Homo sapiens: one gene and its partner. The protein of the gene in region 1 interacts with the protein of each later gene in a pairwise test. Each region holds a gene or a part of one and is shown in the gene's direction. Other genes may lie near its edges.

The links.
Region 2: the proteins of KCNIP4 (region 1) and LITAF interact in a two-hybrid assay, tested with the Homo sapiens proteins (one large-scale study listed by BioGRID and IntAct).

Annotation. Positions count from the first base shown.
Region 1 is NC_000004.12:20,846,758-20,850,579, reverse strand, and holds part of KCNIP4 (Kv channel-interacting protein 4), read left to right. Parts: coding exon 1-37; intron 38-3,822.
Region 2 is NC_000016.10:11,559,144-11,562,965, reverse strand, and holds part of LITAF (lipopolysaccharide-induced tumor necrosis factor-alpha factor), read left to right. Parts: intron 1-1,799; exon of another isoform or gene 1,800-1,820; intron 1,821-3,822.

The DNA of each region.
Region 1 (3,822 bases):
GAAAGAGCTTCAGATCCTTTACAGAGGATTTAAGAATGTAAGAACTTTCTTTTTGACTTTACCTTCACACAATTCCCAGAGGAGCATTGAGAAATGAGAGGAAAAGGGGGAAAATATCCCATTCTATGAGAGCCCCATCATATGTATATTTCATACTGATCCTTCCCAGATAGGAATATAATCAGTATCTGTGGACTTTGATTCTCTGTGGCACACCCATGCTGGCATACTGTGATTGCCCATTAAACAAAGAGTTTCTGAGAAAGTTTTATTCAATTCAGTTCTTGGTTGAAATATTTTCTCTTCATCAACTATAATGACATAATTTCATTAAACTTCCATTGTTTCCTTAGTTTTTAAATACAGGCTGGTGCTTGACTTGAATCTTGAATGTAGATTGAGGCCTATCAAGGGATTCCATTCCTGGAATTGGAGGATAATTACTGTAACTTTTATAGTTTAAAAAACCATGCTGCCAATGTCTGTAAACCACAGGTGTCTGTAGGTCATCACTGTACCTGGTTCTCTGCAATCCAGGTGTGCAGATGACCCTCCCTCCTGGGTGAACCATCTTCAAAAGGGAATGAGAGCCCAGAAAACCCCAGAGGGTGGGGTGAGAGAAAGTGAGTGGATCCAGGCTGACTATGAGACACAGTCTCTTACCAAATACTTTGTATGTGCTAAGGGTTAAACTAGATGCTGCAGGTTATTCAAAAGCCAGAGAAGATACACTTCTATCCTTAAGGAGCTTATGGTCTGAATAGGGAGAGAAAACTTGCTGTCATGAATCTATCTGAAAACAGTTCATCCTTAAAGGCATCAAATGTTTATGTATCAAATAGCATACACATCCCAACATATAGTTTGTTCTTATACATATGGAAACCAAAGTAGCTACAGGCACCCCTGGAGATCCAAATTAAATTGCTTTGATCCTTTTGAAACCCAGCCCCTAAGAACCCCAGTTCCAGTGCGTGTAGAAGTCTGTGATGTCCAAGGATTTCTTCTAATGCCATCCTCTTCACATCTGACCACCACAACTGCTGCCTTTGTCCAACCTTATGCAGACTAGATATGAATCTCTACCTCTTCTTTGGAATCCACAACAGCAATTTACTCAGAGAATTCATACCGGTAGTTGACACTGCAGAATATTTTTATAGGGTTTCTGCATGCGCATTGCACACAAGTTTCCACCATCTGTCTGAATGAATGGAGTCTGTCTTTCTCCCATTTCTGCTCCTCAGCCCCTTCTCCTTGCCCTGGGCTTTCTAAGTTTTTCTCCCTCTATTATGCAGAGTAAATTTGTTTCTTCTCCAAAATTTGATCATCTGCAAAGACCTAGGACTTCGTGGCAATAGGTGGGGGCAGAGGAGATTATAATGGAGATGAGTGCTCACCACACACACAGACCACTGATTAAAGGAATCTGATAGGTAATATATCAAGACAATACATACAAATAAACATGCATAAAGGGAAAAGGGTTTTGACAACCAGGAAAGAGGATGAGTAGTTATGCCTATTCTGCAGTGGTTCCAGGCTTCAGAGACAGCAGGTATTTGCAATGAAACAGTGGTATTGACCACTGGCAGCAGAAAAACACTGAGCAGCAAGGACAGAAAGGAAAGGAGGTGTAAAAGACCAATCTGGGCCAAAAGTCAGTGCTCAGAGGAGGTGAATCACAGAATAAAACTTCAAATGTGTTCATGTGAACACCTAAACTTCTTTGCTATAATTCAGAGATCTAGTAATAAGCAGACTTTTTTTTTCTTTTTAACATTGGATTGTACATCAGATACAGAATGTTTGTTGAACACAGGAGAACTGAATCCAATCTCTCAGCATCCCTGTATTCCTCGACTGCTGCTATGTTATTATTCCAATGCCATCCCCGTAGGGTTTCTCTGTTTGGGGTCTGGCTGCCTTTCATTGCATTTGCTATAAATTGGAATCATGATTACTGCCATCATTAATCTTTGGAGCCAGCATCTCTGCAGCATGTCTAATACAAGTGGCACTTCACAATAAATTGCTAGGCTCCAAAGTCTGCATTCATTGCTTTATTTTTTTTTATTTTATGTTTTTTTTTGTTGCCCATATGTCCTTCTCTTCTTCCTTTTCTCTCCTTCCCCCATTTTCCCAAACTCTTTTCTTTCCCCTTTTTTAATCCTTCTGACCCCACCTCTTATTTCTTCACTCCTCCTTGCTTTCCTTTTTTTCACCTCTTCTGTCTCTTCCCCTTGTGAATTATTGTCTCCTTTCAGCTCTTCCCCATCCTCCTCTTCCTCTATTTTTTTCTCTTCTCTATCTTTATTGATTTCTCTTTCTCCCATCTCACCCTGCCCCATGAGACAAATTTCCATCAGACCTGAATATGCCAAAGGCCTATTTTATATACTTCTTTAAAAGAAAGGACTTCACAGTTTGCTCAGAAAATATTAATCGACATCTCTCATAAATCAAACACAAGTGGCCTTTTAATTTTTATTTCCCCCTAGTCAAATGTACAATTCTAATAAATGAACCCTAAGCATAGCCGAAATACACTAAGCAGGTCAGCAGCACTTGGGTTTTACAGCATGGTAGTAAGCTGAAGCAGCTTCCATCCAAGAAAGCAAACCAACTGCCTTGGTTCCCTAAACACCAATTACCTCAAAGCCCTTAAGATCACAAACTCATTTCCCTGGAAACAGTTGGGATATTCATTTTTAATGAAACTATTAAAACTCTCCATACTGTGATTCAAAGGATAAACCATTCGTCAACATATTAAAATGGTCACACTTGTGTGAAAGTAGCTCAACATAGCCAGGCACCCCTGCAAGTAAATATGACCAGCATAACTCCACCAATTTTTTCCCATATGGTATCTCTGATACATCCCCTAGCATTTTCAACATAGATTGTTAATATAGATTGGAAATGAGAGGAAGGGAAGATAGTGAGAGAAATATCTCCTCCCTCACACAGGCTTACTCACTGAGGCTCCCACACATTTTTAGGTCTCTTGCCAGATTCTGAGTCTCAAAAGTGAGCAGCTGATAGAGACAGAATACAGTACACTGTCCACCTATAAGGAGCCTCAGAATCACCTGAAGGGCTTGTCAAGACACAGATTCCTGGGCCCCATCTTGAAAGATTATGACTTAGTAGAGGTGGGATTGGGTCATAGAATTTGCATTTTCTTTTTTACAAGTTCCAAGGTGATGCTGATGCTGCTGGTCTGGAGCCCACACTTTGAGAATCACTGGTTTTGTGCAGTTATCATAAGCTTCGGTGTCACTCAGCCTCAGGTCATGTTACTCATTTGGGCAGTTCCCTCTGACTCAGGAGACGATGTGTCTTTGTCTATAAACTGGGATAATGATAACTAGATTGCACTTTTTTAAAGAAATAAATATAATAAACATGAAGTTCAATAAAAAGGAGTTATTATAGTATGGCCCCAAATGGTCAACCTCAGTTGTATGTTCCATCAAAGTGGGACAGTCGTGGTTGGCCTACATACTTCCCAGGCAGTGTTTGGGTTTTGGACTACATAATTATATATTAGGAAGGATGCAGAAAATGCAAACTATTATCTACAGATCAGCAGTCTCAAAATTAAATGCACGTTGCAACCATCTGGGGAGCTTTACAAATTAAAAATAGTGGCTACTATGCTTGGTGATTCTGATGTAATTGCTCTGGGAAAAAGCTTCAGCATTAGGATTTATAAAGCTCTTCAAGTAATTATATTGTGTAGGCAAGATTGAGAACCATTGAACTAGATATATAACATATACAAGGTGCTTCTAGCACAAAAAGAAATGACCTATT
Region 2 (3,822 bases), on another chromosome or scaffold:
ATTAAAAAAAATTTTTAAAGATTGTCTTTATATATGATTTTGTGACTCTATTTTTTTTTCTTTTGTTTTGAGACAAGGTCTTGCTCTGTCACCCAGGCTGGAGAGCAGTGGCGTGATCCTAGCTTATTGCAGTCTCAAACTCTTGGGCTCAAGTGATCCTCCTACCTTAGCCTCCAGAGCAGCCAGGACCACAGGCATCTGCCATAACGCCCGGCTAATTTTTGTACCATTTGTAGAGACATGGTCTGAATTTGTTTCCCAGACTGGTCTCAAACTCTTGGGCTCAAGTGATCTGCCCACGTCGGCCTCCCAAAGTGCTGGGATTACAGACGTGATCCAACATGCCTGGGCAAGAATACCTTTCGTTGAGCAAATTGTTGAGAGGTAGAATGAGGAAAACTTTTGGCTAAAAGGGACCCCAAGATATCCCAAGTGGCATATTTATAGATGTGAAAGTGATTCCACAGCTGGGCATGTCAGATCAAAATTCTCCATGGATCAGGAATGCCTCCTTTTCCTTTTCTGTCACCACCGGTCACATTTGGCTACTTAATTTCTGGGCTCCAGTGCAGCATGGAAACGCGAGGCCCTTTGTTCAAAAAGTGTTCGAATTTCTTTTCTTCCTTCTTTTTTTTTTTTTTTTTTTTTTTTTGAGACGGAGTCTCGCTCAGTCACCCAGGCTGGAGTGCAGTGACACGATCTCGGCTCACTGCAGCCTCCATCTCCCAGGTTCACAGTGTGGAGAGGCAGGGCACGGTGGCTCATGCCTGTAATCCCAGCACTTTGAGAGGCTGAGGCAGGAGGATCACTTGAGCCCAGGAGTTTATGACCATCCTGGGCAGCTTAGCAAGACCCTGTCTCTAAGTAAAATTAAAAAGTTATAGCCAGGTATGGTGACACACACCTGTAGTCCCACCTACTCCAGAGGCTGAGACAGGAGGATTGTTTGAGTCTACGAGTTTCAGGCTGTGGCGAGCTATGATCATGCCACTGTACTCCAGCCTGGGCAATAGAGTGAGACCCTGTTTCTCTCTTTCTTTCTCCCTTTCCCTCTTTTTTAAAAAAAAGACATTGTGGAGAGTGTGTGTGTGAGTTTAGGGTGAGGGGGACTAATTGCTGTTCTAAGAGTTTCGTAGTTGGGGGGGTGATAAGGAGGGGATGGGGGGTGATGAGGAGAGGGATGGTTGGTGGGTGGGCCTCTTATCCCAGGAGATAAGCCAAATTGAAATGAAGGCGCAAAACAAGGGAAACAAAATGGGACTAACCGTGGTGGCATTTCCTGGCCTTGGGGCCTGAGGGAGGGAAGACTGTGGAATTTATTTAGAAAACTTCCAAACCAGCGGTTATGAGTCTTTTTTACTATTCTGGCCTGTTGCTCTTGTTCTTTTCAGAATTATAAATGTGTTTGTGTGGCTGTTTGATCTCAAAGCAATGCTCAGAAGATGCAGTGTCTCGAAATCCCAGAAGATAAGATGTTACCACATGAAAGATGGTCTCAATAAAGGGGGAGAGGCGGTGGCCGAGGCCTTAATTTCCAAAACGAGAAACTGGGGCCCACCCATCTTTTAAAGGTCGTCAAAAGAAAGCTCCCATCCTCCCATCCCCCACACCTGTGTGTTGACTCTGTAAAGATGCAGTTTCCTCACTTTGGGAGGAGAGGCCGTGGTTTTTGCAGGAATTGCGCCGCTGCCGAATTCAGCCATTGCCTCTTGGAGGTTTAGGATGCCCCAGGCCTTGTTTTCCCTCAAAGCATTCCATTGGCAATCACGACCAACCATGCTCCTTGAGGATTTCTGTACACACTGGCTTTTCCTGGTCTTGTAAGTTTTTATACGAGTCAGTTTTCACCATAAATCATGGAGGTGGGTCTGGGGCTGTGACGGCGAGTCCTCGACGTTCAACCCGGATGTAGGTCACTCCAGACCCCCAGGGTGCCCTGTCGTTCCCTTTGCTGGAAGTTTCAACAAAGCCAGAAGCAGATGTCAGGGGTTCCCGGGGTCATCTGGGAGGGATGTCCGCTGAGTTTAGGGGCAAGCTGGGACTGCTGCATTTCTGTTCCTGTACGTCAGAGGAAACTAGCAACACGCCTCAAACCACTTTACACCATGTCTCAGTGTTAAACCAGAGCCTGTTTTCACAAACACCTCCTGCGATCTCATTACAGCCCCACCCTGCCCTCCTGCTTCTGTGGCCTTCTCTACTTTGCTTCTTGCTCCTCTTAAAGACCTTCTGTCTCATCTGTCTTTTCTGGGGTTGGGCCTTTCCCCTTCTCTATAACCTTCTGTGACTCCCACGGCTCACAGCTTTGCTGTATATTAGGAGCAGAAAGCAAGCTTCATTACATCATTTAAAATTTTTTAGTAGCTACATTTTTTTTTTTTTTGAGATGGAATCTCGCTCTGTGGCCCAGGCTGGAGTGCAGTGGTGTGATCTCAGCTCGCTGCAACCTCTGCCTCCCAGGTTAAGTGCTGGGATTACAGGCGCACGCCACCAGACCTGGCTAATTTCTGTATTTTTAGTAGAGATGGGGTTTCACCATGTTGGCCAGGCTGGTCTCGAACTCCTTACCTCAAATGATCCACCCATCTCAGCCTCCCAAAGTGCTGGGATTACAGGCATGAGCCACCGTGCCTGGCCGCCACATTTAATGTATTTATTTATTGATTTTTGAGACAGAGTCTCACTCTGTTGCCCAGGCTAGAGTGCAATGGCGCAATCTCAGCTCCCTGCAACCTCCACCTCCCGTGTTCAAGTGATTATCCTGCCTCAGCCTCCTGAGTAGCTGGGATTACAGGCGCCCAATATCACACCTGGCTAATTTTTGTATTTTTAGTAGAGACGGGGTTTCACCATGTTGGCCAGGCTGGTCTCAAACTCCTGACCTCAGGCGATCCGTCTGCCTTGGCCTCCCAAAGTACTGGGATTATAGTCGTGAGCCACTGTGTCTGGCCTCTTTTTTATTTATTTTGTTTTTATTTATTTATTTTTGAGACAGTCTCGCCCAGGCTGGAGTGCAGTGGCGCAGTCACGGCTCACTTGAACTCCTGGGTTTAAGTGATTCTCCCACCTCAGCCTCCCAAGTAGCTGGGACCACAGGGGTGCACCACCATGTCTGGCTAATTTTTAATTTTTTTGTAGAGACAGTGTCTCCCTATGTTGCTCAGGCTGATCTAGAATGCCTGGGCTCAAGCCATCCTCCTGCCTCAGCCTCCCAAAGTGCTGGGATGACAGGTGTAAGCCACCATGCCCGGCCTAGTAGCCACATTTTGAAAGGTACAAAGAAACAGGTGAAATTAACAATACATTTTACTTAACTTCATATATCTAAGCTGTGGTCATTTTAATATATCAATATAAGAAATTATTAATGAGATATTTTACATTCATTTTTTCCTACTAAGTTTTGAAACCCAGGGTGTATTTTTACATTGACATTCTATCCCAAATTGAATGCTAAATTTTTATCAAAAAACATTTTGATCTATATTCAGTGTTCATCAAATTTACCATTGAAAAAATGATTCATATATTCAAGTTGTCCCAGACTTACATAAAAGCTTCCCAATAATTGAATTGTTAGTTTTCACATTTAAATTGCTTAAACTTAAATACAAGTAAAAATTCATTGGCAAGTAAAAAGATGAAAAAGAAGCTAAAACAAAAAAAATTCAGTTCTTCACTCACACTAGCTCATTTCTTTTTTTCTTTTAGACATAGAGTGTCGCTCTGTCACCCAGGCTAGAGTGCAGTGGCATGATCATGGCTCACTGTAGCCTCCACCTGCTAGGCTCAAGTGATCCTCCTACCTCAGCCTCCTGGGTA